Homo sapiens: one gene and its partners. The protein of the gene in region 2 interacts with the protein of the main gene of each other region in a biochemical or structural test. Each region holds a gene or a part of one and is shown on either strand. Other genes may lie near its edges.

Region 1 (7,020 bases), on a different chromosome or scaffold from region 2:
AGTGGCTACATGTGACTAGTGGCTGCCATATTGAACAGTGCAGGTGCAGAGCATTTCCATCATCACGGAAAGTGCCATTAGACGGTACTGGTCTAGGGTATTTAAACACTAGTGTCAAGAAGTGACATTTCTTTCCCCTCCCCCCATCCTGGCAGGGAAACATGCACCTAAGGTTCATTCAGGTGCAGAGTTTTGGGCCAAGACCCAGAACATCCTGATCAGTGAGTCTAAGGAAGGAAGTGAAAATGAGTACATTTTAAAAAGCTACCCAGGGGATTTTCCCTGGGTAAGACACAACCAAGTCTTACCGCTGGTGACTGGTAAACAGAGGTTAGGATCTTAGAAAATTACATGTACCACAGGGCTGCAGCTGAGAGCTCCAAATTCCACTGCTTATGGGGTGAAAAGCGTTTCTTTCCAAAAGCTACATTAACTAATGATCCACCCATACGTAAAAAATAATAAAATGTGCATAAATGTGAAACCCTCTGATTTTCCTTCCCTTGTTAAACATTGGAAAAGGAAGTCAGTCGTATAATTTCAAAGCTCTGCTCATGTCTTTATTAAGTTAACATTCTCAGCACAAAATATGCTAATGTATTTTTTTTTAAGTAGATAAACTGCCAGGCACATTTTCACGTTTTCTAACTTAGCCTATAATAAGAGTGAAAAGCTCCAACAACCAAACACCTCTTTTCAGCCTTCTCAAAGACATGATAAATATCATTTCTGTGTGCTTTTATTTGTTCATTCATTCTCTCACTCAACAGAAATTTTTGGAGCACATAAAATGTACCAGACAATATTCTAGATACTTGATATACGTATAAAAATCCTCATGGAGCTAACATTCTAGTGGTTTTATGTACCTGCATATCAATGCCACTCATGCATGGGAGTTGGGGATAGTAAGAAAACCAAAGCAATAAGTAAGATGTATATTCTTTTGGAAGGTGGTAAATGCTAAGGACAAAAATAAAGCAGGAAAAAGGGATTGGGAATGTTGGAGGTACTGCAATTTTTAGTAAGGTGGTTAGGGAAGGTCTTGCTGCGAAGGTAATGGCTGTTGATGTCTCTGCATAACTGAAATGTGTTTCCCTTCAGGGCCCTGGAATGCCCTAGCAGCACCTGCTACAAGAGTGTAGGCCAGTCACCCTCCTCCCCCTAAAGTAAACTTTGGGGGTTATCTTACCTCACCTCAATTTCCATCTGATAATTGTCTTGGCAGCTGTCTCCCCAAAGCTCTTGGTGCAAGTGACACCACCCTCCCAACGCCTTGGCAGATGACTTTGCGTGGCGAATCCTTGTAAGTCTTGCCTTTCTTTAGCCACTATGACAGGGCTGTAGTTTGTCAACCTTCCAATAAGCTTTGGGACTGCGCTAGAGAGCAGGTTAGCGAAAGGACCTCTGATTGCAGGCAATTTAAAAGAGCCTTCTTTGCAAGAGCCAGAAACTTTTAAAATATGCAATTAAAAATTGTATGCATGCCCAGAGACCTTTTAAACTCTTTTAGATATAACTAACCAAAAATAACTTTCTTTCCTAGGTGCCAGGCTCCTAGTACAGGGGTGTAGGGGACTAATGTCTCCCTCTTTCTCTCTCTCTTTTTGTTTTGGATAACATTTTTGATAGAAAAGAAACAGGGCAGATGGAGAAGCTGTGTGTGGCAAGGACAGGGTATAAGAAGTAAGTAAAGTTAGAAGAGATGAAAGAAGCTGCTCATGAAATTAGGTCTACTACTTGGGATAATCAGAGAAGTTCCAGTAAGTTTCTCAATTACAGAGAAGTGCCTAGTAAAACCCAAAAGAAAACGTTTTGGTTTATGTTCAAAATGTTATTTGTGAATGTATCAAGAAAACTCAATAAAACCTTAGGTAGCATGTTTGGAAATAATTTAGCGATACCTCTATCTGTAAATTTATTTTATTTTTATTATTTTTTTGAGACAGAGTTTTGCTCTTGTTGCCCAGGCTGGAGTGCAATGGCGCAATCTCAGCTCACTGCAACCTCTACCTCCTGGATTCAAGTGATTGTCCTGCCTCAGCCTCCCAAGTAGCTGGGATTACAGGCATCCACCACCTCATCTGGCTAATTTTTGTATTTTTTTTTTTTAGTAGAGACAGGATTTCACTATGTTGGCCAGGTTGGTTTTGAACTCCTGACCTCAGTGCTCCACCTGACTCAGCCTCCCAAAGTGCTAGGATTACAGGCATGAGCCACCACACCCCCAGCCTAATTTATTTTAAATAAGACAGCTGAATTTGGAGCTGTGTGGCTACTGTTAGTAACTACTTAGTTTAGGGATTTTGTGTGTGTGTGTTGTGGGGGGGGTTTCTTTGTTTGTTTTTTTGGTTTGTGTTTTTTAAACAAATATCCTAAACTTGTTTTAAACAGTAATTCTTAGCCCTAGGCATGCGTTGGCTATATCACAAATTTAATAAAAGATCAGATAAATAGGAAAAAATCAGTTGAATTTAGAATTCAATTCAAAGTAATGACCCTTAATTTTGAAAATAGTCATTCTACATTTTTGTCAAATTATTATTTGTGACTATAATATGTTTTCTGGTATTATCTGTGCATTTTCAGCCTGGATTTTCCGTTTGATTAGTTCTGTTGGTTTTTCAAGTGGAAGCCAGGCCCAAAGCAGCACATCAGAAGCCATATAGCAAAATAAAATTAAAACAAAACAAAAGACATAAAACAGACCAGTTCCATTTTCTGTGAAGGGGTTTGTGGCAGCTCAATTCCTGTCAAAGTGCATGAATGGAAACCAAGAAGTGTGTCACCTGACAGGGACTAGTTTCATCCCTCTCTTGTAGTTTCTTTTGGACCCTGGAGTTGACATACTCAATGCTTTACCTCCCTCCATCAACACTGGGGCCTAGGAACATCCTTATTCCTCAAATTAAGAGAGGACTTTCTTAAGATGCTATATGCCCAAAGGCTCTAGGGCATAAGCGTGAAGAATTATCTATATGTTGTCTCAAATCTTGTTTAATTCTCCTTTTCACCAGTGGTGACATTCCTTATGCGTTTCTTATTTTAATCCAGGCAAACCCTTTTTTACACGAAACCCTTCTGAGTTGAAAGGCAAGTTCATTCACACAAAGCTGCGGAAAAGCAGTCGTGGCTTTGGCTTCACGGTGGTTGGAGGGGATGAACCTGATGAGTTTCTCCAGATCAAGAGCTTGGTCCTAGATGGTCCTGCTGCATTGGATGGCAAGATGGAAACAGGTAGCGTCAACATGGCCTTAGTGTGTTCTGTGTGGTGAGACTCCAATCCAGGAGATAAACATGTGCAATCATGATGTTGTTTGTTTGAGCAAGACCAAGCAACGTCATGATTGCACATGTTTACAGCTTTAAACACCTTGAGAATGAGCCAGGTCTCCACATTACATAAATTCATCCCTTGGGACAGATTAAAACCTGTGAAGTCATTTTAAGTTTGGGAAACTGTTTGAGTACAGTAAAGCAATGAGTTACTAAAACTGTAGATCCCCATTTAAATAAATGAATTCTAAACTTGGATTTCTGCAGTGAGATTTTTTTTTAGGAGAAAGCTCCAATGTTCTGTGAGTGATTATTACATTCTCATTAGCAGGGAAGACACTAGGTGCTGAAAGAACACTTTATTAGCTGTTAAAATCAGTAATAGAAGCACTTTATACCCTATAGTATCACACCCACATGCAGTTTCAGTTCAGCTTTATGTTAGTGGGAGATATTATAATACTGATGACAATTTTCTGGGTGCTGTTTTCTTAACCCCCACACTCTTGCCTTCTACAGGGGATGTGATTGTAAGTGTGAATGACACCTGTGTTTTGGGACACACACATGCTCAAGTTGTGAAGATCTTCCAGTCCATCCCCATTGGTGCCAGCGTGGACCTTGAACTCTGCCGAGGTTATCCATTGCCTTTTGATCCAGATGACCCCAATACAAGTTTAGTGACCTCGGTAGCCATTTTGGATAAAGAACCAATTATTGTGAATGGGCAAGAGACCTATGATTCACCAGCTAGCCACAGTAGTAAAACAGGCAAAGTCAATGGCATGAAGGATGCCAGGCCAAGCAGCCCAGCGGACGTGGCTTCAAATAGTTCTCATGGTTATCCTAATGACACTGTTTCTTTGGCTTCCTCCATAGCCACTCAGCCAGAACTCATAACTGTTCATATTGTCAAAGGGCCAATGGGCTTTGGTTTTACTATCGCAGACAGTCCTGGTGGGGGTGGCCAAAGAGTGAAACAGATTGTTGACAGCCCAAGGTGCCGAGGCCTGAAAGAAGGGGATCTCATAGTGGAAGTTAATAAGAAGAACGTGCAGGCCCTAACTCACAACCAAGTGGTGGATATGCTGGTTGAGTGTCCTAAGGGAAGTGAGGTCACATTGTTGGTGCAACGAGGAGGTAAGTAGGGTTGTTTTGTTCTTTGAATTTTTTTTTTATCCCAAATTCATTGCTTAACTTACTCATCTTCAGATGACCACTGGGGGCTTTTTAAATTTATTTAAATGTTTCAAAATGCCTACTGATTTCTCCAAATACTAACCTCTTTAGCATAAAAATTGTGGTTTATACATTATGACAGACATATGCAGTTAGAATGATACCTTAAAACAGAAATCAGATTTTGCCTTTTTAAAATGTTAAGATTTAAAAACCTAAGTTGGGTGTGGTGGTACCCACCTGTAGTCCTGGCTGCTTGAGAGGCTGAGGCAGGAAGATCACTTGAGCCCAGGCATTTGAGTCCAGACTGGGCAACATATTGAGACCCCATTCTCTAAAAAGTTTTTTTATATATATATAAAAAATAATAACCTTTATCCTTTAAATCTCCTGAACTTGGCCTGCATAGCCTGCAAAATGTGGCTATGGTCACTCCAAACTTGTCTCATGTTCCTCTCCTCCATCTGATGGTGCTTTAGCCACACTGGCTGCTTTTATGGAGCTCCTTTAATGCTTCAAGCCTTTTCTTGCCTCAGGCCCTTTGTATTTACTGTCCGTTCTGCCTGGAATGGTCCTTTCCCAGCTCTTCCCAGCTGGCTCAGTCCCATTCAGGTCTCCTTATGAGAGAGGGCTTCTCCCATCACTTTATCTAAAGTAGCTCCCAACACTTCCATATAATCTTTATCACAGTTTTTCATAACCTTGATCATCATCACCTTTTTAGCACAAGACGTTATTTCATGCTTTTATTTATTTTTCATTATTTGTCTTTCATTAGAATATAAAGCTCCATAAAGCCAGGGCCCATGTGTGCATGTGGACAGCTGTTATCCCCAGCATTTAACACAACACCTGACTCCTTTTAGGTATTTATGAATGAATAGGTATTAAGTGAATAGGTATGTGATTATTTCTATTTGGCAGAAACAAGAGGTCTGCTAATCATATTAAACACTTCCCTCCACATGCTCGCGTTTAGTAGTTTAGGATCTCAGAGATCTGGGTTATTCTAAATCTCGAGGCATTAAGCTTCCTCCTTTCTCCTTGAGTCCGTATCCCACCCTCTGCCTCACCAGAAAACACAGGACGTCACACTGAGCAATACTTTCCACCATATTGAAGTGTCTTGCTCCTGGAATATATACTTATATGTGATTAGTCGTGACTGATAGTTTTACACAGTGGGCCTGAGAATGGCTGTTTCCCTGATCCTTGCTACCATGATTTGTTTCATGAACAACATATTCAGGCCTTTTGAAAAGAGATCAAGAACCAGACTTTGACTTCCTTTTGGTTTGTTGCAACAGGAGAGCTCATTTGTGTCACAGCAGCCAGATTCTCATGTTTTCATGAACCTGTGTGTTCTGCGATCAGAATGGCTGGGGTCATTTGAAGGAAACCCAAAATACAGAGTAGCTGTCTATGTGAATTGAAATGCTCAATGAGCCTGGCTTAGGCAGTTATAAAAGGCATTGTGCAAATTTTATTTTTTTTAAAATGTCATTTCCACCAACTAATTTTCAAGTCTCTTCTTGTACCTAGATCACTTGACTGCTCAGAGAACTGGTTTTAAACAGTAGCCAAGATGTATGTAGTAGGAAATGACTTGGGTATAAGAACGATTATGACAATAATGATGATGGTGATGATGAAACCTGGCACTTATAGAAGAATCAGTGATACACAAAGCACTTTCATACCTGCACGTGCCTCTCCACTGATATTTGTCACTTCCCTGTGAGGTAGGAAGGTGCCACCCCACAGTAGTTCTGAGCTGTTCACCCTGGCTCTGTGGTTTCCAGTCCAATGTTCTGCCCTACTTAACTGAATAACACTGATTTTTGTATAGTTGCTTAATACTGAGGCTGACAGCCTGGAAACTTTCAAATAATTCTTGGTACATCAGGTGCACCTCTGATTCAGCCACTGCTCATTTGACAGACACAAACCACCTTGTTCTCCTAACTCATCTATCCTCTTTCTCATTTCTGTTATTGATGTGGTTTATTATCCCATTAGATTCACTTCTAAGGAGACCAAACATAAAGTTTCATTATAGCCAACTAACTTACACATGTATTAGAACCATATTGTAATGAATTCGCCTAAGCCAGCAAACAACTGATTATAGAAACGTACTCCTTGATTTTATTTTTTATTTTTATTTTTGAGACAGGGTCTCACTTTGTCACCCAGGCTGGAGTGCAGTGGTGCCATCTCAGCTCACTGCAGCCTCAACCTCCTAGTTTCAAGCGATCTTCCTGCCTTAGCCCCCCAAGTAGCTGAGACTATAGGTGCATGCCACCACTCCCGGCTGATTTTTGTATTTTCAGTAGAAATGATTTCTCCATGTTACCCATGCTGGTCTCGAACTCCCGCGCTCAAGGGATCCACCTGCCTCGGCCTCCCGAAGTGCTAGGATTACAGGCATGAGCCACCACACCTGACTATACTCCTTGATTTTAAATATGTTTGCATTCTCTCTTCTTAATTCCCAATGCCATCTTCTCATTAATGGTGTTACATTTTATAACATTTATATGAAAAATCCGGAATATATTGCCA
Region 2 (7,926 bases):
ACTAGAAATGTGAATGAGGATTATTATAAAAGGGGGTCCGTGGAAGAATGATCAGCATCTGTGATGGGAGCGTCAGGGTTGGTGTGCTGAGGTGTTAGAGAGGGACCATGTGTCACTTGTGCTTTGCTCTTGTCCCACGTGTCTTCCACTTTGCATATGAGCCGTGAACTGTGCATAGTGCTGGGATGGAGGGGAGTGTTGGGCATGTGATCACGCCTGGCTAATAAGGCTTTAGTGTATTTATTTATTTATTTATTTTATTTGTTTTTCATTCATCCCATTAATCATTTCCCCATAACTCAATGGCCTAAAACTGGCCTGACTTGGGGGAACGATGTGTCTGTATTTCATGTGGCTGTAGATCCCAAGATGACTGGGGTGGGAGGTCTTGCTAGAATGGGAAGGGTCATAGAAAGGGCCTTGACATCAGTTCCTTTGTGTGTACTCACTGAAGCCTGCGTTGGTCCAGAGCGGAGGCTGTGTGCCTGGGGGAGTTTTCCTCTATACATCTCTCCCCAACCCTAGGTTCCCTGTTCTTCCTCCAGCTGCACCAGAGCAACCTCTCACTCCCCATGCCACGTTCCACAGTTGCCACCACCTCTGTGGCATTGAAATGAGCACCTCCATTAAAGTCTGAATCAGTGCACTGTTGTGTCTAAGGAGTCTTACTCTAGTCCCTATGAGGGGAGAGAAGATGGAGCACCTGGAAGCTGGTGAAACTGGATAGCAGAGCTGGGGGGGCACAAAAAGAGGAAGACAAACTGAACAAATATGGCCGAGATGATGGCACTGCCTACCCCATTCTGGCTAGGTGGGGTGCATGTGGCCCCTGCTTTCTTAGCAGAAGGCTTGGCTCCCAGACGCAGGTGAATTAAGGGGTTCAAGAGCCCCTAAAAGCATAAAATATTTTGTGTGTGTGTGTGTGTGCACGCGCATTTTGGGGGAAAGGGGGTCTAAGGTGTTTTCATATCCAAAGGGCTTGTGGACTGGAGCAGCTCCTGTACTGGGCCTCTGCCAACAAAACCCTGGCTGGTTCTCGAATGGAACAGGACTTCATGGCCATCACCCACTGCAAGATGGGGAAATGGGAAGGAAGAATGGTTCCGGGGGTAGTATACGGAAGGACCTAAGGAAACAGAGTCCTCAATAAACTGAAGATTCAGGAACAAAAGTGCTTAACAGAACCCTGGCTGGGTCAGACTAACAGTAGGTTTCCAATATGTGGCTAGAGACGTACTACTCCTTAGCTATAACTCGTTAACTCTTATGGGGCCTCAGCGTTGAGATGCTCATTCTAGGTACCCCCGAGGGGGACAAATCCCTTCCTAGTGGCTCGGATGCAAGGTTGCGTCCCACAGATAGGGTTTGCACATGGGAGATCTAACCACTAGAGGGAGTCAGAGTTTTGCAGGACGCCATACTGGACGCCAAGTGGGAGGAACTTCAAGGCTGTCCCCTGCGGGCCTCCCGCTCTGCTTCTGCGAAGGTCTGGTCCTGGCTCCCTCTGCCATCCTGCCCAGCTCCAAGGCTAAAATAGGTTCTAGTTCTGTATGGGTAGGGCCCATTTCTTTTCTTGCCCTCCTTCCCGGGTCCCTGACACCTCAGCCATTTTCAGTTCAAAGAGCCTCATGCCCCCTTTCCATTTCTGTGCCTTTTAGTTTCAGTGTGGGCATCTCATCTTTCCCTTTTCTCCTGGCGACCCTTTATGCCTCCCTTGGGGTTTCCTGTACTTTCCTCTGTGCCTCTCAGTTTTCTCTGGGGTCCCTGATACCCATCTTACCTTAGTAACTCCCAGACTGACCAGGACTATCCTAGTTTGAGCCTAGTTCCTAGCCTCTGTCCTTTCTTTCATCCCTCCTCACCAGGTCGCCTTCTCTGACAGTCTGGCCCCCCAACCCCCAAAGTATCGGGGTTGGATTGGGTTACAGCTAGCTCTGCCTGGGCCTCCCAGGCCCTTCTCTCCACTTTCCCTTTGTGCCGTTGCCTGGAGACCAATGGGTTGTGGGGGGCTGAGCCAGAGAGGGAGCTGGGGTGAGGGATGGCTGGGGCTGTGTGTGTGCGTGTGCGTGTGTGTGTGTGTGTGTGTGTGTGAGAGAGAGAGAGAGAGATGTCCCCTGCAGCTGGACTATAAGCCTGGCCCTCAGGTAGGGGAGGAATGGGAGAGGGTAGACAATGGTTTCTTTTGTGACTCTCACCATCCCCTATCCCCACATATGCCTAAATTTTTCTTTTAGTATCCATTGTAGCCCATTCCTTAGTGATTAAAAAACAAGGGAGAAGAGCTCAGCCTGGAAGGGATTTGGAAAGGGCTTGAGCCAAGGCCCAGTGGGAGACTGAACTGAGTGGTACAGAAAGAGAGGAAATGCCATGGGGAGAGAGGGTGAGAGGGAAAGGGGGAGCCCTGGAACAAAGTCAGGGGTGGGGAGGAGCAGCAGCTACCCTAGAGCAAGAGGAAGGGAGTCGGGGTGCACAGGGAGACAGGGAGCTGGCCTGGTCTCAGGGAGGCCCTGGGAGGAAGGTGTGCTTGGAGTGGTAAAGTGAGTGCCAACCAATTCAAGGGACTTCAGAGTGATGACTCATTCCCAGGCCAAGGAAGTGTTCCTGTTCCTGCGCCCAGTTCCCCAGTGCTCTGGAATCTTGTTTAGAGCTTTTGAGTATTCCCAGAACTTTGTTGAATCTGGCCCAAGGAATTGTGAGACAAAAATCTACTGAGCTGCTCCAGAGCTAACCTCCTTCCTTCCCTGAAGGCAGGTGGGATCTTGCCAATTCAGGGCCCACCCTTAGCCTCCAGCAAGACTGGCCCCACAAGTACCCGACCCCCACCCCAAATCTGGAGCTCTACTGAGGGCTCCTAATCCACACTCCAGCTCCAGCTCTTCCGGCTTGCCAGCCTGCCTCCCTCCCATTCTCTGGCCTTCCCAATTTCTGCTGCCAAAAATCACCCTGTGTCCTTTGTCCTGGGAGATGTTGCCGCTTGGTGGAGGGCCAGGAGGGAGCCCAGGAGAAGGAACTGGTGGTGGGCTGGCGGAGGTGCTGGCTTCACGGCCGGGAGCAGACTGACTGCCAGAGGCTACCTGGAGAGCAGGGGAGGGAGAGGAAGGGTTGGGAGGAGCCTGCAGTCTGTGGTGGGGACTGTCTCCACCTTAGAACAAGTGGGATTGAGCAACAAGGATACCCAGGGATTTGGGTCCACATTAAGCCCAGTCTTCACCCGACTGCTTCCCTGTGACCCAGGGGATCTTTAGTGATGACTTTCAACAGATTTGAGAAGGAAAATGGAGATGCCACTAGATGGAAGGCCTGAGGATGGTGTCTCACTCCTCCAAGCTGTATCCCTTACCTATCTACCCATGAGCTTGCCAGCAACCTCCCCCCGCTCCCACATCTGTCATTTCCTTTAACTGCCCTCGTTTCCCATCTCCATTTTTTCTTTTTTTTTTTGAGACGGCGTCTCGCTCTGTCTCCCAGGCTGGAGTGCAGTGGCGCGATCTCTGCTTGCTGAAACCTTTGCCTCCCAGGTTCAAGGATTCTCCTGCCTCAGCCTCTGAGTAGCTGGGATTACAGGCATGCGCCACCACACCCGGCTAATTTTTGTATTTTTAGTAGAGACGGGGTTTCGCCATGTTGGCCAGGCTGGTCTTGAACTCCTGACAAGTGACCCACCCGACTCAGCCTCCGAAAGTGCTGAGATTACAGGCGTGAGCCCCCGCACCGGCCCCATCTCCATTTTCTTTTCCCATCCATGATCTTTCCTCTTCCATACTGCCGCCAGCCATAGGCCTTGTTCAGCTTACATTTCCTTCCAATCTTCTTATCCCCCTCTTCCCCATTCTGCCCGCCCAAGTAAACCCTCCTCGGCTCTACTGGGAGCCCCCACCCCCAGGATCCAGCCAGCCCGGTGTCTCCCACCCTTCTTTCCCATCCAGAGCCCTCCTTTCTCACCCAGAACCTATTTTCCCTAGAATTGGCACCTGGGCCCACCTCGTTCATCCCTTCTTAAGGTTCCTCACGCGTTCCCTCCTCTCTCTCCTCACTGACGTTTCCTCTGGACTTCTCTCTCTCCAGCATTCCTTCATCCCCCCACCCCCAATTCTTATATTTATGACTCTTTTGTCAACACTAATCACCCCCAAAAGCTTTACTTTTTCCAGAAGCCCCATCTTTCTATATATGTCATCTTTTCAATTTTTCTCTCTCCTTATGACCCCAAACTTCCATCCCATTCTCTCTGATAATAGCCCCCAAACCCGTCTGGCTCCATCTCTGCCACAGATCCCTCACCCCAAGCTTCTCTCACTTCTCACCAGGCACCCACAAAGCCCCCAGGCAGCTCCATCTTTCCAATCCAATCCCATTATCCCAATCTCTACCCCAGGATCCCCCAAACTCCTCCCACTTCACCTCTGCCACAGACCCGCTCGCCCCCAAACTTCAGCCTCCCCTCATCTGCCCTCACCACCCACAGCCCCTCCTACCTAGCCCTCTCCCGCGCCGGGCCCGCGGGCTCCCCACATTCCGCCACGGCTAGCCCTCCCCGCGCCCCGGCCCCCTCGGCCTCGGCCTCGGCCAACTCGCGCTGCGCCTCCCCCTCTCCGGCTCCCCCTCTCTCCCCCCTCGCGGCTTGCCTCGCGCTCCCTCCCTCGCGTCTCCCTCCTGGCCCCTCTCTCCTCCGTTCCTCCGCGCTCCCTCCTTCTCCCTCTTCCTCCCTTCTCCCATCCCCCTCTCCCAGGCTCCCTCCCTTCGCCGTCCGCTTTCCTGTGCGAGTCGCCGGACGCACCGCCCAGCCCGTCCGCAGCCCCGCGCCGGGTCGGGGCCTCGGGCCGGGCCATTTCGGAGGGACCGCGGCTTCGGGGAGGGGCTAGGAGGGGGGAGAGGGAGCCGACTGCCGGGGAAGGGGCGGGGGCCGCGGGCGAGGCGGCCGAGGGGCCCGGGATCGCGCGGGTGCGGGCTGCGCTAGGCGGGCGCGGGCGGCGGCGGGTCGGAACCGCGCCGAGGGCCGGGCGGGCCGCGGGGCCGGGCGGCGCGGCGGGGGCGGGCGGCGCGGCCCGGGGCATTCCGGGCGGCCAGGGGGAGGCGGCGAGCCCGGGGAGGTGGGGAGCAGAGCGGGGATCGGGGTTTGCTCCGGGGGCCGGCGGGCGATTGGGGCCAGGCGGGGAAAAGGGGGGATGGGGGCCGCCCTCCGGGGGGGTCGGGGCCGCCGCCGCCGTCGTCGCGGCGGCGACTGAGGCCGAGAAGAGGAGAGGGGGGCGGGGGAGCTGCCGCCGCCGCCCCCCAGAGGCGCCGGAGCCCGGAATCCCGCTCGGAGCCAGCCAGCCGTCCCGAGCTACCAGCAGGTAAGGTCTGCGGCCGCCTGGGCCCCGGGCCCGCGGGGTTCTGTCCCGCCCGGGCTCCGGCCTGCGGCTCCCCACCCCCACCCCTCCCAGTTCCCCCTCCTGCCGCCGCCGCCTCCATTTGTTATTTTCCCAATCCCGTCCCCCCACTGCGGGCTCTGCCTGGCCTGAGGGCCGGGGGCTCAGGGGGTGGGGCCCGCCGAGGAGAGTCGGGGGCCAGGGTTTCGGGAGGATCGGGAAGGTGGGGAAGGAGGGAGGGTCTCCGGAGGAGGCCTGTGGGGCCAGAGGGTATCCGGGACCCGCAGACTCAAAAGAGGAGGAACATCGAGGCCGGGGTTGGCGGAGGAAAACGGGGGATGCTGTGAGTGGGGTTCCGGGCGAAGGCAGAATGGATAGGAGAGATGGCAGCGAGGTGGGGCATGAAGCCTCCAGGAAAAAGCTCCAAAGGACCAGAACACGGGTTCCGGAGCCTGGGGTTGGGGGCTTTAGGAATAGACGGGAAGTGGGAAACGGGAAAGGGGTGTGGTAGGTGGAAAGAGGGATTGTGGCTGATGAACCTGGGGGAGACGGAGGCTTGGGCAAAGAGAGGTCCATTTTTGAGAAGAGCCGGAGGTTTTCCAGCGTGGAAGAGGGAAGGCCATGTCTTTGTGACGGTTTTCATTCCCCTACTGCAGGTCACCTCTGACCCTGTTTTCCCTATCCCAGACATAGTTATTTCTTGGAGAGGGCACTGGGGCCCAGTAGTGTGGGTTATCCCAAAACTAGTGAGGAGGAAAACAGGAACACAGAAGGGGGAGTTGGGAAGAAAGGGGTTCTGGGAGGATGGAAATGGAGAATTGAGCAACCTTACAGGCACTCCAGGCAAGTTGCGACCTCCACCCTCCACCCTCCAATTTCCGGAGCGTCCGCTGCCCCTGGAGCTGTGATCTATATAGGGAGGCCTTAGTTACTGCTTTGAGCTCAAAGATCTCCCTTTGTGCATGGGCTTATTTTGACTAGGGTAGGTACCTTCAAGCTCCCTTACCTGAGGTGCTATAGGAGGGTAGGAGTTGCTTTGGCAACTGGGGTAGGGGGTAGCTGCCAGATGGACACCTGGGATGGTCTCTTGAGGGGCACCTTTTGCCACTGTGTTGCTATGGTAGTGATCCAGTGGGATGTCAGATTGGTTGGGGGGGCTTCGAATGTTTATTGGACCTCAGCCTGTGGCTGTCCTTGGGACTCTGGGCTGGGTTTTGGAGGTTGTTTCTGGATCTGTTGGTGGTTGGGAGTTTCCCCACGGTGTGCACCCTTTCATGTTGAAGTCTGTTGGAACAGGTAGATACGTTCCTTGCAGATCATAGGTGTTTCTCCAAGTCTCTCCACCTGGGCATGATGGGAGGATGAAAACGCTTCTGTTCAGGTTACACCATCTTTTGGCAGTTGGTTCTGACCTCTACCTCCCTTATTATGTTATTTTTTGTAGAGTTGTCTTTTTGCTTCTTTGCACTTTCTTTCATTTTCTAAAACTTGAATTCCTCTTTGAGCCTCCCTTCTTGAGTAACCCTTTTCCTCTTTCCCTCAACTAACCTTTGGCCTTCTTCCCTGACCTTGTAGAAATGGCTGGGCTCCCAGGCCCATCCCAGGTGAGGGTGGCCCAGGACAGAGGGCTGTGAAACAGCTTCATGCAGGGGAAATACTATAGAACAGGAGCCAGGAGACCTGTGTCTAGACCTGGCTGTGCCTCTGTGACCTTGGGCAAGTCACTTCTCTTTGAGCCTGGGCTTCATTGTTAAGATGAAGGGGCTATAGATGAGATGATCTCTGAGGCCTCTCTGAAGGTCCCGGATTCTCAGAAGGCTTAGGCCAGTGCATCGTTATCTGCTGGTCTGGGCTGCATTGTTATCTAGGAGTCACTTTGGACTGGTTTGTTAGTCTGGCAGGTCCAGAATGATGTTGGGGGCTGGGCCAATGATCCTGAAATTTAGCCTGCGAGCCCCTCCCAGAGAGCTTGTGACTCCACTGTATTCCTTCTGACATCCCATATTTCTCTCTTAATTTCTTTTCCTGTTCTTACTTAGGGGCTCTTTTTCTAGTTCTCACTTTCCTCCCAACCCAGTCTGGTCTTAATCATTTTCTTTTTAAAGTAAGGTAATGGCAGTGCGCAGTGGCTCACGCCTGTAATCCCAGCACTTTGGGAGGCTGAGGCGGGCGGATCACGAGGTCAGGCGATTGAGACCATCCTGGCTAACACGGTGAAACCCCGTCTCTAGTAAAAATACAAAAAAATTAGCCGGGCGTGGTGGCGGGCGCCTGTAGTCCCAGCTACTCAGGAGGCTGAGGCAGGAGAATGGCGTGAACCCGGGAGGTGGAGCTTGCAGTGAGCCGAGCCGAGATCGCGGCACGGCACTCCAGCCTGGGTGACAGAGTGAGACTCCGTCTCAATAAATAAATAAATAAATAAATAAATAAAATAAAGCAAGGTAATGAAGGTGAATGTGCTTAGTATGTGGCCAGATACAGAGTAGGTGCTCTGTAATATTAGTTACAGTGATTGCCTGCTAGGAGTGTAGGCTGGTGCTAAAACATGACCCAGGTCTAGAAAGACACACAATCCACC
Region 3 (7,756 bases), on a different chromosome or scaffold from region 2:
GCTGGAAAACCGTTCTTAACTTCCCTCGCCAGGGGGTCCCCTCGGGGCTTTTTGTGTGTCATAATTGCCTAAAGATATATGGCAGCTTCGATTACTGTAATTACCATCAGAGGCTGTTGAAAGAAGTTAGTCTGGGCTGCAGGGGTGACTGGCCAGGGTCTCGTTACCACCCAGGCGGGGCTCCGGGTGACATCGCTCTGCTCTCCAGCCGCGAGAAGCCGGGCAAGGCGGGGGCTGCAGCTCTGTCTGCTCGACCCAGTCCTGACCCGGCCCGCTGCGCGCCGACCTCCTAGCTGCCCCGGGCCCGAGGGACGCAAGTCTCGGGTTGGCTGCCGCCACCGGTCTGGAAAGGGCCTAAATGCAGCGGCGCCACCGGCGGGGGCCGCTGTCCTGCGGGCCTGAGAAAGCTCAGCAGCCGCGTCCCGACCTGAGCCGGGGCTGGAGGCTTCCAAGGCCTCACTCAGGCTCTTGGCAAGTTAGAACGGCCAAAGTTTCCGCAAGGAGCCCGCTGTGGTTTTTCCCCCAAAGTCCGGAGGGTTGGCCTGCCTCCTAGTCCACAGCGGGGGCGCAGCCGCAGGCGGGCAGAGCTCCCCGCTCACCCCTCCCTCGCCTCTGAGGCCTCACCTTTCAAGGGCCCCAGGGGCTCCACACCCCGAAAAGGACGAAAGAGCCCGGGGCTCCTTACTTCCAGGGGTGTAGGCGAGGGCCTGTCCCGGGGCGAGCGAGCTAGGAGGCCTGCCGAGACCCACGGGCTTCAGTTTTTGCAACGGAGGCTCAGAATGCAACAGAAACGGCCTCCTGAGCCTCCTGGGAAGGACACTCACGCCCGGGAATGCGGGCAACAAAAATCGAGGTCGCTTTACCTCCTGGAGATTCCAACAGCGAGGGCCAGGGTAGGCCCGAGCCTAAAGGGAAACCCAGTCCTGGGCCAGGGTCCGCTCTGCATTCCGGCCGCGGTGAGGGCTCCTTCTCTGCTCCCTCTGCCCCAGCTCGAAACATTTCTCCTTTTCTTTTTGTTCACGTTCATTTTGCTCTAATTTTTTAAAGGTCAGCACCCAAAGCAAAACAAAATGAAAACACAACCTCCTTCTTGGAGGGGGGTAGGAGGGCGGGAATTGCATCCCACTTAAGTGAGACTTCATTACCAGTCCTCAGAAGTATCTCCGATTCTCCCAACTTTCAAAGACTCAGGACAATGAGGGCGAGTGAAAGGGGGAGGGGGAGGGAAGGAACGCACAGAGCGCCAAAAATGCTATCTGCGAAAACAACACAAGCAGCAAGGCAACTTCGGGATATGGGGACTGCGGCGGCAACGGTAGTCCCCAGCCTCAGACCCTGGAGCCCGCAGCCGTGGGCCACTGGATGGCGGGAACTGAAATGCCCCCGGGAGATCTGAGCACCGTGACCGCGCCTGCTCAACGCTGGCTCGGGCCTGCACATTCTTGGGTTCCGCAGGCAGGGTGCAAGCAAATGCCCTCGCACACACACTTAGCCCTGCGCTCGTGAGTCTCGGGGTGGTGAGAGGTCAGCTGCGGCCTGGCGTTCGGAGAGCCGGCAGCTAAGGAAGTTCGAGGAAGGAGAGAAGCGCACGGAGGGAGCAGGCCGCGCACTCCTGCCTCTGCTGGGCTCCGGCTCGAAAAGTCCTTGGGATTAGGGATTTGGTCCTCTCTTTGCTAGAGTGGTTCGCCATACTTTAAATTCCCCAGTTATGACCTACGCGGATTTAGGATTAAGGAAAATGTGACTTTTAAATTGTTTCTGCTTCCCAGTTTGCAGGATTATTTGAAATAGCTAGAAACGGGGTGCAAAGCATTCCATTCAAAATCCGCTTTGCACAGAGTTGCTTTTGCGCGCTGGAGCTCGGAGTTTTGAGCGAGTGTGTTATTGTGCTACCGCCTGGAGCTGCGGCCCAGTTCCCGCCCCCATGGCCCCCCCATCCAGCACCTGGCGGCTAAATGGAGACAACTCATCCGACTGGTGGGCTGCGCGGGTCGTAACCTTCTCACCGCACCAGACAGGGGGGATCAAGCAATCCAGAGGCAACGAAACGGCTCTCCCCTCTCCACGAAATGCTCCAACTCACGGTCTACAGGTCTGGGCCGAACGCACACGCCCGCTGGAATCCCTCTCAGGGGCTCAGATTCGCAGCGCTCCAGGCAGGACCTCCCCCAGCCTCCCCGCTCGCTCGCCCCAGGCTGCGCGCCTAGGCCCCACGGCGGCCCGAGAGGTACCCACTTGTTGATCCGGCTGGCTTGCTCATGCTGGCTGTCCCGGGGCGGAGCGGTTGGTGGGCGCTGCCCGAGTCCCGGCCGGCAGCGCCCGCCTCGCCGCCGGGCGCCGCCGCTCTCCAGCTGCCCTCCAGCCTGCAAGGCTCCTGGGCGGGACAGGTGGGTGTCAGTCGCGCGCTGCGCTGCTCCCTGGGCGCTCAGAATTCGTCCAACAGTGGAAATTTAAGCATCCTTAAGTTTCTTCCCGGCTCTTGCAAAACCGCAGCTGCTGGGAATGCTGCTTGATATGGACACACACATGGACAGACAGATGGAGAGATGGACAGGAAGACTGAGGAAGAAGGAAGAACAGCAAGAGAGGGATGTTGAAAGACAGAGATGGAGACACGAAAATGGCCTTCCTACGGAGCGAAATCCCTCTTTTTCCCCATTCCTGTCACTCAGTCTTCGATCTCTCCCTCTACATAGGCATGCAGAGTGTGGGCAATCTCTGCCGACCGCTGGTCTCCCAAGGAAAGAAGGAAAACACTACCGCAGTCTCAGAGGCAGACGGGCTCCGCGCTGCCGGAACCCAAGCGCAGAGTGGGAAAACTAGATTGCTGGGAAATCTTCCGAGGGAAGAGGCGGCCAGGTCCGGGTTTCCGGGGAGAGCCGCGCACGCAGCGGCGAAGGGTCCCCGAAGTTCATTACCCCGTGACTTTGTGCCTGTCGCTGCGGGCTGGGTCCCCTGTAATATCTCCAGAAGCGCTCTGACAGGCAGCCGCGGGGAGGGGAATAGGGCGTCCCTGGCCCACTTAGCTTTTCCCCCAACTCCTGGCGGGGTCTGACGTCAGCCATGTGCGGGGAGGGGATGGGAAGAGGGAGGGGGTTAAATGCTAATGATATTAATGAACCTCCAAGCGGCTCCCAAAGAAAATGCAGGCGCTGTCGGAGCTTACGAGTTAGAAAGTGTGAATATGGGAGTGTGGCTCTGTGCGTGCGTGATGGTGAGGACGGTGCGGCTCGTAATAAAAATGAATTCGTATATTTCACGGCAAGAAGGAAGGGGAGGGGTGACGGGGCTTTCTCAAAACGCTTTTCCCCCTCTCTCCAGAGTGCCAGATAGATTCGCGGAAGAAATTGGGTGGCTGTGTGCTGGCGTGTGATTGTGCGCGCCGGACATGGCCATGTGAGTTGGTTCATTCTTGGTCCGGTGCCCCTTCTGTTGGGTAAAACTTGGATCTGGCCCGAGGTGAGTAATTTACTCATTTTGCACATATCTACGGAAAGTCAGGGCTGAGGATGGGGTCTTCTGGAGGTTCCGCGTTCCTTCGGCCTTCGCGCAGTGGGTTTGGGCACCAGCCGAGGGGAGGATGCCGCCAGCTTCCCCAAGCAGAGCTGGCCCATCCGACGCTGAGCGAATCTCTTGTCGCCTCCATTATCTGCACCGGGGCGGCTGGAGGGCAGAGCGTTCCCTCCCGCCGCTCGTCCTCGGCGGGCGTTGCGGGCTCCCGCTCTCCGGGCGGAGGAATAGTGAAGAGAGGCCCTCATCCCCTACCCCCTCCCCATTCCGCTTGCCTTCCCGCGATTCCTGAGCTCTCTCGCGCCTTGCTCTGTGCGCGGCGCTGGGAGAGCGCATGCCGAGGGAGCGATGATCCCCGATCTCTAAGAGATTAATTCTATTTAAGCTCTCTCGGCAGCTTGAACTTGTCGAACAAGAGCTTGCCAGTCCCTCCTCAGGGCGTGGACCCGGCCAGAGGTCAGAGGTTACACCTCCCGCCCTCCGCTCGACGTTCGCGGGGAGGGGAGCTGTGGCCGGCGCTCTGCAATTCCGCCAGCCCACCCCCCGGTCCCTCTTTCTCCAGACTCGGTGTCATCCCGGGCTTTCAATCAGAGTTCGCCTGTGCGTGCAAGTGAATGCTGGAGTCCCCCGAGCCCTGGGAGGGCGCAGCAGGTCCTCCGCCTGGGCGTCCCAGGGGGAGCGGGCTGTGCGCTCCAGTGGGCTCCGACAGCACGTGATTGCAACTTTCTGCCCAGCCTTGGCTCGGCCTCGAGCTCGGGGTCTCGCACACCACACACACCAGAGCCTGTGTCCTCCTTAGTGGGGCGCCGCGACCAAGGCTGGGGTCCCGGGGAAAGAGCAAGATGGGGGGATCTTTATCTCTCAGTTTATTCCCTCCTCCTCGGTTTTTCGAATTGGGACGAGATTGGGGGATTGTGGGACGAGGCCATAAGCGCGTAGGGGTTTATTAGGTGACAGGAGGAGAAATCAGCGTTTTTTGACAGCCAACTTGTACAGCCGCTTGTGGAGCTAGCCCGACCGGCGGCGTAGCGCTTTCTCGAACTCGGCGCCCAGAGAGGGGAGGAATTTCGGGCAGGATTTGAGAAACACAATAAGATGCCAGGCTCCGTTTGGAATCCTCAGGTTCTGGTTCACGCCAGAAATCCACTTGCTTCAGCCACCTACCACCACCACCCCCATAACGCGGACGCGATTATGGGGTTCTTTGGTTCAGGACAAAGAACTTCAAGGGTGGAACTAATTTATCTGGGGCGAAGATGAGGGCAGTGTGGGGGGTGATGACTAGACCCAGGCCTGTCTGCAGGGGAAGCATTTAGGGGTCTGTTTCGAGAAGGAGAACTACTAATTGCTTTGCCTGTGCGGGGGCTGGACGATGGCTTTCCTGGGCTCCAAACCACCTCTTCCCCTACTCTCGAACGCTCCTGCCAGGCTGGCTCATTTGTAGGCACCAAAACTTCTGGAAAATACTCCCAAGGCTCATCAAATTGTCTCAAAATCAAAATGGGTATCTTCCCTCTTTTTCCTGTCACCAGTCCCCGATCAAGCATGGTGTCAAGAAGATGCCTACGGAATACACACACACCCCATTCAGCCCTGGCGAAAGGCACAACACTGCGCGCACACACCCGCAGCATATGCATCCTGTGTTCTGTGCGCCCGGCTGTAATTATCGGCGCGCTTTGCATAAATCACAATACAGTTCTGAAATCATCGTGATGACTTTCTGGCATGACTGGTTCAGTGGTAACGGCGGCAACAAGCTCCAGGGTAGGCGGGAGGGGCTGAGGCCCCGTCGCCCACCAGGTCCCAAATAAGCCTGGAGCCTTAGTGCGGGCTGCCTTCTACTCAGGCAAAGCTGCTGCAGGCCACGGGGGACCTCGGATTTAAGGCGTAGAAACTTGGGGCTACCATGGGTACAGCTCAGAGAAGAAAGCCTTTGCAGGACAAAGACTATGGCTCTTCATCTTTCTATCCACAGGCCCCAGCATGCTGCCTGATTCATAGTAGGTGCTGCATAAATGTTGGGCAAATGAAGGGAAGTCACCTGCAGATGCCCTGAGGGGCCACTGGAGGCACAGCCAGGCTAAACGCTGGAAACCACGAGATAGGGATTCAGGGCTGTGCCAACAAGCTGTGTGACCTTAGGCGAGTGGCTAGACCTCTCTGGGTTCCAGATTGTTATTTGTAAAAGGATTCTCACCCTGTTCGGTCTTAACTTTCAAAGATTTTTTCCTGTGAGTCCATTAAAGGAAATGATTGATAAGGGGCAAATGCCATCTGGCTCAGAATTATCTTTTAACAGAGACAAGACCTTAAGTTACAAGGATAAGTTTATTGCTTTGGAAGGTGGTGGGGATAGCCACACCCTCAGAGGTTCTGAAACCCTTCTAAACAGGTTCAGACATAGCCCCTAATTTCCTCTGTAGGCGCTTGTGAGTATGGAGCTCTCAACCAAAACCAAAGCCTAAAACGCAGGGAAGGTTCTTTTATCGAAGGATGTTTACATTTTGGTCCAAGAGATAGGAAATAAGATCATGAGAGGACCATGGATCAAGGGGTATTTCTGCCCATCCATCAATCTACCCACTCATCAAATACTGAGCACCCACTATATGCCAGACCCTGGGGATATAGCAGATTAATGACATGACTCCTTTCTCCATGTAGCAGGGAGCAGACACATAAAAGATGATAAATGTTTTAGATTGGGATGAAACACAGGACACTGGAGATATATACAAGGAGCCCTAAACCAGTGTGCGGTGACATAGGCTGTCCAGAATTGCCCTGGAAAGCTGGCCTTGTGTTAGGAGAATCTACTGATTCTACAGTCCTCTGAGGACTGTATTGTATTATAGCTCATTCCTCTGCTAGTGCCCTGTTAAAGAGAATCCTATTAACTAGGTTGTATGAGAGAGGCAGGGGTACAGAGCACCCCTCAAAGTTTCAGACTATCTGAGGTTGACTGCTAGCCCTGCCATTCACTAGCTTCTCTAAAAACGGTGACATTTTTTCCATTAACACCCCCTCCACACACACACATTCTTCTAAATTAAAATACCGAAGGTGAAAGGACAAGCTTTCCCATCAGCTAGCAGAGCTGATGGAATTGGTGTTAAAGAGACCCCTTCCCCAATCCCCTGTGATCGACCCCTCACAGAGGCCATTCAACCTCTAGAGAGTCACTCCTTTAAAATACCATTCCCCTTACCGATATGCAGAGTTAAGAGATGCTCAGACCAAGGAAATCGCTGGGAAAACCTACCAGCTGAGCTTGGCTGAGTTTTGATGTTTAGTATCCAAAAACATTCTGACACAAGTTTTTGTTTGTTTGTTTGTTTGTTTGTTTATATGAAGGAGGAAGTTGATTTGCATTTGCTTCCACATCATAATTCAACCTATGGCTGTTGTTTGCCCAGTGGATGGTGAGAGAGGAGGTGGGTCATGGAGCAGTGTCTGGCACATAGTAGGTGCTTGCTAAGTGCCAAATGAAAGAAACAGTGTTTGCAGGCTTGCTCTTGATTCTGCTGTGGATCTCTCTACAAGTTGTTTGATTCTTATCCAAATTTACCCCCCAAATAAACAAGAACAATCCAGAAAAGAGACGCTTGTTCTCTAGAATCCAGTGGGTCCTGAGTTGCAGGGTTTTTCTTGACACTTTTGAGCACTGTATTGCCAAAAGTAGTCTGTTACTCCCCACAAGTAGGAAGATGAACGCTGCTAACAACAAGGAGACAATGCTCTGTGTGACCACCCCCCTCACCCCACAACCTTAACAAATAACAAGTCATGTCTTTGCATTTATTCACACCCTTGGTTGGACAAAAATTCAGTTCTAAAGTCAGGCTGAGACTCCGAGGCTTCTAGAGTCCCGCTGCATCTTGACATTCTCTGGCTCCAAGAATAATCAAGTAGAAACATCTTTCTAGTCCCTTGCACCCTGGCACATAGTGGTGCTTTGTAAATGTGGAATGTATGAGTGAACCTGCCTGATGATACTCAATGAAAGCTACTGAAGCTTGAGGTGAAGGGCTCATTTTTGCTCAGCCCCAGCAATGGGGTAGGAAGGGAACAGGGACAGGTCCTCTGAATCTCCAAACCTTGGGAAGCAGTGCAGGTCATTTTTGGCTTTCTGAAAACAAAAGAATGACTAGAGAAACAAGAAAGCAGAACACAGACTACATCCAGGGAGATACTGGCTGCCAAGCTTTCTTCAGCCTCCTAATTTCCTGTGAATTACACAGTC
Region 4 (7,020 bases), on a different chromosome or scaffold from region 2:
AGAGCTGTCATTGCAGATTGGTGGGGGGTGGGACAAAGAAATACTCATTAAATAATGATGCTGTGGACCGGGCGCGGTGGCTCACGCCTGGAATCCCAGCACTTTGGGAGGCCGAGGCGGGCGGATCACGAGGTCAGGAGATCGAGACCATCCCGGCTAAAACGGTGAAACCCCGTCTCTACTAAAAATACAAAAAATTAGCCGGGCGTAGTGGCGGGCGCCTGTAGTCCCAGCTACTTGGGAGGCTGAGGCAGGAGAATGGCGTGAACCCGGGAGGCGGAGCTTGCAGTGAGCCGAGATCCCGCCACTGCACTCCAGCCTGGGCGACAGAGCGAGACTCCGTCTCAAAAAAAAAAAAAAAAAAAAATAATGATGCTGTGACATGTGGTTATCCATATGGAAAAATTGAGATTGAGGTTCTACCTTATATCATACAGAGAAATCAACTGTAGGTGATTAAATACTTAGATATAAAAAGTAAAACTATACAACTTTTAGAAGAAGATATAAGAGAAGACGTTTAAGACCATGTCTTGGAGAATGATTTCTCAAACAAGACACAGAAAGCAGAAACTATAAAAAAAAAAAAAAGGGTTAAGCCAATTACGCTAAAATTAAGACTTTCTCATTATCAAAGAGCATCATAAAGAAAGTGAAACTGCAAGCCATAAGCTGGCATAAGATATCTGTATCACATTAATTGATGAAAAAGATCACCAATAATATATAAGCATTTCTATAATCAACATGAAGAAATATTCAACAGAAAATGAGGAAAGACATGTACAGGCATTTTTTAGTTAAGAGAGAACATGAACGTCTAATAAATATAAGAAAAAATGATGAATATGAATTTGTAATCAAGAAATGCAAATCCAAATCTAAAATATATAATTTTCTACCTACCAGAATGAGAGTTTAAAAGTCTGACGTACAAATCTTGTGAGTGTGTGTAGTAAGAAAAACTTTTTTACATATGCTAATACAAGTATAACTTTGTAAAACCACCTTGGACAATACTTTTGTGTTACTTAGGTAAGTTAAATTTGTGCCCTCCAAGGCATCTAGTCTAGTCTAGAGAAAGTCTTGCATAGGTACAGCAGGAAAGATGTACAAAGATTGTATGAGTTACAACAAACTTGGAAACAACCAAAGTGTAAATTGACAGGGAAAATCTCAAATGTCCATAAAATGGAAAAATAGATAATTATTATAGGTTGTAGCATATTCACATAATGAAATAACTTATAGCAGTGAAAAATAAATGGACTATAGCTTCATGCACCAACCTTGGATGAATCTCATGAACATAACATATAGAAAGCAAACCACAGAGAAGAACATGTACAGTATGGTTCAGTTACATAAAGTTCACAAAGTGCACCAAGCTAAAGGTTATAGTTGAGAGATACACACATCTGTGGTAACAACAGAAGAAATGTCAAGTGCTTTATTTAGGAAGGTGGTTCCCTCTGAGGGCTGGAGAGTAGGAGGAGAATGAAATCATGGGAGCTTGGTAATGTTCTGTTTTTTAAGTGGGGCTATGGGTTCATGGGTCCTTGAATCATGGTTAGTATTTACACTTATTACATATGTTAGAAATATTCTTGTAAATCGTTTTATGTTTAATAAAAACAATATATAAACCAAGATGCTTTTGTATTGACTAGTTATATCTGGTCTATAGAAGGAAAGGTGACAAATTTAGAAGAAGCTAATTTCAGGGAATGTTGCTTTTCCTTTAAAAAAAAGATGGGCAAATGATATTTTTTTGTGCATTGATTGGTTGAACAAAATGTTTTAGTCATTCCAAAGCCCATTGCAGGCAGACTTTTGCATCATGTGAGTTTCAGAAAGTAGGTAAACCATCTTATAAATAAGCTTATGTGATGCTAAATAGGCATACACAAATGGTACCCAGCTGCAAGTGATGAAGTTATGAAATAATGTTCTTTTTCATCATAAAAATACATTTTATGGAAATGCGAACTATATTACACTTTTATGGAAACAGGAAAATATTTTACCATTTTAAGAGCAAACGATCTCCTTTCAGATTTCTCTTTTAACTTGACTCTCAGATTTTTATTTAAGCACTTAGAATTTCTATTCTTTCCCTCCAAATGTCTCCTGATTTCTTACATTCCCTGTTTTACTGAGCTTTGCCAATATTATTTTTTATGTTCATTATTTTTTGCCTGTGTTTTCTATTTAGTTTTGGCTTTTAATTAGGTTATATTCCTAGGAGCTTTGTATCAGAGATTTTATTCACTAGCTATGAAAATTTCATCCCTCCCAATTTTATTAGGCCATTTTACAAACGTAAGTCTTCTTTTTATAAACAGCTCCAGTAATATTTTCTAATAATTTATTATCCTTTTCCTTAAAATCTGAATGTCCATTGTGTTTCTCTTATGACACCAGCCTTCTTGACTGACTGAAGAAAAGCAAGCAGACGTGACAATGATATATCTCTTTTTATTATTCCCCTTATTTTCTGCATTCACAGATTGTGTTTTGTTTTATCTATTCAACTTTTAATACATCAGTATTAACTGATGTTGAAAAACCATCTAGTATAATAATTAAAGTCAAAACTTGCTACTCTCCACTGGTTTTTTGATAAAGTGAATATAGTAGCTCCCTCTCATACCTCTTGCATATATTCCAACATCTCCAGCGGATGCCTGAAATCACAGGCAGAACTAACCCTATATACACTGTTTTCCCTATATATATCTATGATAAAGTTTAATTTACAAATTAGACACAGCAAGGGATCAAAAACAATAAAAAAAGAACAATTATAACAAAATGCCAGCATCACTACTCTTGCACTTTGGGGCCATTACTAAGTAAAACAACGGTTACTTGAACACGGGCAGTGCGATACCATGATAGTCAATCTGATAATCGAGAGGGCTGCTGAGTAACCAGTGGGCAGGTAGCATCTACAGTGTGGATAAAGGGCTGTTTCACCTTCTGGGAAGGACAAAATTTCAGCACGATACTCACAACGCTGCACAATTTAAAATTTATAATTGTTTATTTCTGAAAAATTTTATGTAATATTTTTGGATTGCAGTTGACACAGGTATCTATAATAAAACCTCGGAAGGTAAAACCTCAGAGTTTCACCTGAAGAGCTTCCTAAAACATAGCCTGGTGACCCCACTCCTAGAGTTTCTGATTCAGCAGTTTTGGGTGGGGCTAGAGAATCTACATTTCTACCAAGTTTCCAGGTGATGCTGATGCCAGGAACCGTGCTGAGAACCATTGCTCTGGCTTAAATTCTGTAAGAAAGAGGAATCTTTTCCTGCAAGGGTATTTCTCTATTTAGGCTTCTTTGCCTTGGGAGTACTGTGTATATCCAGCAGCGAGTCATTTAGATCCCTTGTGAAAATACATGGCCACTGTTTGTAACCGACAGAGACCAGCCCTGTAGTCCACCGTGGGTCTCTATCTCTCACAGGGCTCTGGCCATTTTGCACATGGTCTTCCTACTGTGTTTCACCTGCACTGGAAAGATTAATTTTGTTTTACTTAACTGCTTGTGAGCTGGCCTTATAGCAGGTTAAGAAAGTGTCCTTCTGGCTTATAGGGAAGCTGTAGAGCCAGGAAACCATGTGGAGGCCCATCTTCAAATCAGGGCTAGACGGGGTAAGAGGAGGCTGGTGCTAGATCACGGGGAGGGCTGCCAGTCTCTGGTGTCAGCCCTGCCTGGGTTTAAATTCCAACTTGGATGCTTCCCAGCTGTCAAAGGATTGTGGTAGTGGGGAGAAACAAAGACATGATGTGCATGCCTTCTGCTTTTGGACTGTGGATAATCCTCTGACTTGGAAATGCGTATCATAGAAATGCAGACTTGGTGGTAGAAATAACAGATTCAGCCATCAGGGAAAATTGGTTGGTGAGGCTCTGCACAAGAACCTGAGGTTCCGGAACCCCAAAGCCACAGCTTTTCTTTATTAACTTAAAGAGGCAGGAGGGAGGGCAAGAATAAATTCTAGATTTTATTCATACACCGACACACACACACACACAAACACACAGAGAGAGTAAAGAGACTAATATTTTATATTGTTAACAAGCTTTGTTTTATACCCTTAAATGAAGAATCAGTTACCCATCAATCAGATGCCTCAAAGTAATTATTAAATGAAAAAATCTACTCTTAACTTTAATTGGAAAATTTCTAGCTGCTGTCTTTTTTTTTTTTTTTTCTTGAGACAGATTCTCACTCTGTTGCCCAGGCTGGAGTGCAGTGGCACGATCTTGGCTCACTGCAACCTCCGCCTCCCTGGGCTCAAGCGATTCTCCTGCCTCAGCCTCCTGAGTAGCTAGGACTACAGGCGCCCGCCACCACGCCTGGCTAATTTTTTTGTATTTTTAGTAGAGATGGGGTTTCACAGTGTTAGCCAGGTTGTTCTCCATCTCTTGACCTTGTGATCCTCCCGCCTCAGCCTCCCAAAGTGCTAGGATTACCGGTGTGAGCCACCACGCCCGGCCCCTGCTGTCATTTTTAAGAACAACCTGTATCCAAGAAGCCAAATCCCTTTTACTCCTAATGCTTCTGTCTGCCCAGTATCAAACCAAAAGACCAGTCAACACAAAGGAAAAATTTCCTAAAAGTCCCGCAAAACCATGTGATTAATCAATATGGGGGAAAAAGCACAAAACTAAAAATAAATTTCAAAAGATTCAACCTTAATCAAAACAGAATCATCAAACCATAGAAAGAATTATGGAGAAATAATGTTTCCTTTTCAAGCTATTTCTTAGATTTCTTTCATTTGCTCTTTAGAAAAATAGTACTTTACTGAGGTTAATCAATTAGAAGGTCATAAGCAGAAAAATGAGAATGAGAGATATTATAAAATAGCAAGTGGCCAGACTTTTAAGAAACTGGGTCATCATCAACTAGAAAGAGGGCAAACCTACAGCAACCCCGCTTGACAGCATGCTTCAGTACTCTTCCAATACCACAGTCGGTTTTTCTTTCAGAATTAAGCAATTCTATAAAAAGAGACTGTTCTTACCCTCATCCTCCCATTCCTTATTGCTGGTCCATCTTCTGCCAGTCTCAACACATACAAATCCATTTTGTATTCCCTTCCTCCACGAATGCTGAATCCAAATCCTTTGGCTCCTTTCTCCATGTCCACAGTGAAATAATCAAAATCCTTTGGGGTTGGGGAGAAAATGGAATAAATAATTATTTAGTTATCAGAGAAGCTTCTGTGGCTAGTCTCTGTGTTCTCCTTCTGTCTCTTAGTTAATGTATTCCAAATGACATGATGTTGGGAGAAGTCGTAATCTGGCTTCATAAACTACCCAAATGAAAGACAAAATTCCAAAGGTTTGAGCAGGCCAGAGCACAGTTTACTTGGTCATCAAAGAATTACTGTGTAGCTTGTTTACTTTGGTATTCATCAGTTTACTTGGCAAACGTGGAATGATTACAGATAGGCCTGAGTGACATCATCTCTCCTTTTACTTCTCTCATTCACTGCTATTGAGCACCATAAATAAATGTCAGGTGTGTGTGTGTGTGTGTGTGTGTGTGTGTACAAATTACAGAGTTTGCTGATTAGAAAAGTAAAATTTAGTGGGATCTGATAATTAGATCTCTCAGTTGCACAGACTATTGAATATCAAGTTGGAATGTACAAAATCAATTTCTCTTTTACCTAAAATGCAGTATGTCCAAGATTCTCTGATCTTCACTATTCTTAAAATCTTTGGGCATAAAGTTGATCTTCAATTCATAATAAAACACAATGTAATCTGATAGAGTTGAGATTGTACTTAATTTATATCTTGGTATGTAGTTACGAAGTAGGAAATATTTTCTAGATACCAAACTCTGGTCTAGACTCTTTTCATAAATGTTGAATCCTCATCCTGGCCTGTAAGGAAGACTCTCCCTTTAGGAAACTGAATCTCAGAGAAGTTAAGGAAGTTGACATGAAGCACATCAACAAATAATCATAACAACAGTGACACTGGTTGTGTAGACAGAGAGTTGTTGGCTGTGGCAGGCGCTACACTCTGGATTGTGAAGCCAAGCCTGGTCTTATTCTTACGCACAGGGGCTTGGCCCTTTATCACAGAGTGGCAGGTAGGGGGCCACGTAAAAAAATATGGACCTAAAATACCTCCACTGCTAGCATCTATAAAATTTTCTGCATTAGCAGCACTCTCAGAGGTCCCAGGTTAGAGCATTTTTAAAACTTTGACAAGGAAACGTACAAGGAGTTAGCTAGTATTAGCAGGGATTAGTTTATTCCATTACTACTCATCCGCTATTTATTTATGTATTTATCCATATTTATTTATTGTCCTGCTTTATTCTGAAATAGATTTATTTATCCAGCATGTTTCTGAGGATGCAGGTGTTACCCCGATGTTACCAGAACTAGGAATAGAACTTCAGCTCTCCATCCCAGACAGGTACTCTTTCCTCTGCCTCTCCTATTTCATTCCTTGCAGTTCTCTGGAAGCCTTGGTCAGGACCCACCCTGCTCTCCGGGAGGAGGTACCTGGGGTTGTCTGTAGTCCGACAGAGGGTACTGCCTGGTGTCGGGGGAGTGCTGCCTGTAGTCCAGTAGGGGAGGCTGCCTGTAGTCCAAGGGTGGGGGCTGCTGGTAGTCCCCTCCTGGGGGTTGCCTGTAATCCAGCGGGGGCTGCCTGTAGTCTGTGAATGGAGGCTGTCGGATGTCTGGTTTCACATCTTGCCTTGCTTTCACTTCCGACCTGTAACTAAATCAATGGAAATGGGATTTGCTTTTGTAACTCTGCATTCTAAAGAGGCTAGAGTGATCACACGGCCTCCAGAGGTGGGCCAGCCATGACAGCTCACACAAACCACTCCTCTCGGTGGTCCTGTTGGATGCTCAGGATTATGAGAAGGTTAAATATTATTTAAAAATCTCTGACAAATGCCATATTGTATGCTTTTTATTTGGCTCCTTACGAAGTCAAGGTAAAAATGATGGTTCAACCAGAACCTTGTGAAAA

Evidence for each region.
Region 1: the proteins of ATN1 (region 2) and MAGI1 form a complex in vitro, tested with the Homo sapiens proteins (one study listed by BioGRID).
Region 3: the proteins of ATN1 (region 2) and NR2E1 form a complex in vitro, tested with the Homo sapiens proteins (one study listed by BioGRID).
Region 4: the proteins of ATN1 (region 2) and MAGI2 form a complex in vitro, tested with the Homo sapiens proteins (one study listed by BioGRID).

The regions. Positions count from the first base shown.
Region 1 is NC_000003.12:65,426,916-65,433,935, reverse strand, and holds part of MAGI1 (membrane-associated guanylate kinase, WW and PDZ domain-containing protein 1), read left to right. Parts: intron 1-3,054; coding exon 3,055-3,237; intron 3,238-3,795; coding exon 3,796-4,416; intron 4,417-7,020. UniProt on the Homo sapiens protein: Plays a role in coupling actin fibers to cell junctions in endothelial cells, via its interaction with AMOTL2 and CDH5. May regulate acid-induced ASIC3 currents by modulating its expression at the cell surface.
Region 2 is NC_000012.12:6,923,052-6,930,977, forward strand, and holds the start of ATN1 (atrophin-1), read left to right. Parts: upstream 1-4,907; 5' UTR 4,908-5,333; intron 5,334-5,449; exon of another isoform or gene 5,450-5,691; intron 5,692-7,926. UniProt on the Homo sapiens protein: Transcriptional corepressor. Recruits NR2E1 to repress transcription. Promotes vascular smooth cell (VSMC) migration and orientation. Corepressor of MTG8 transcriptional repression.
Region 3 is NC_000006.12:108,161,270-108,169,025, reverse strand, and holds the start of NR2E1 (nuclear receptor subfamily 2 group E member 1), read right to left. Parts: upstream 3,005-7,756; 5' UTR 2,261-3,004; coding exon 2,236-2,260; intron 1,004-2,235; exon of another isoform or gene 1,000-1,003; coding exon of another isoform or gene 864-999; intron 1-863. UniProt on the Homo sapiens protein: Orphan receptor that binds DNA as a monomer to hormone response elements (HRE) containing an extended core motif half-site sequence 5'-AAGGTCA-3' in which the 5' flanking nucleotides participate in determining receptor specificity.
Region 4 is NC_000007.14:78,120,655-78,127,674, forward strand, and holds part of MAGI2 (membrane-associated guanylate kinase, WW and PDZ domain-containing protein 2), read right to left. Parts: intron 6,763-7,020; coding exon 6,543-6,762; intron 5,184-6,542; coding exon 5,040-5,183; intron 1-5,039. UniProt on the Homo sapiens protein: Seems to act as a scaffold molecule at synaptic junctions by assembling neurotransmitter receptors and cell adhesion proteins. Plays a role in nerve growth factor (NGF)-induced recruitment of RAPGEF2 to late endosomes and neurite outgrowth.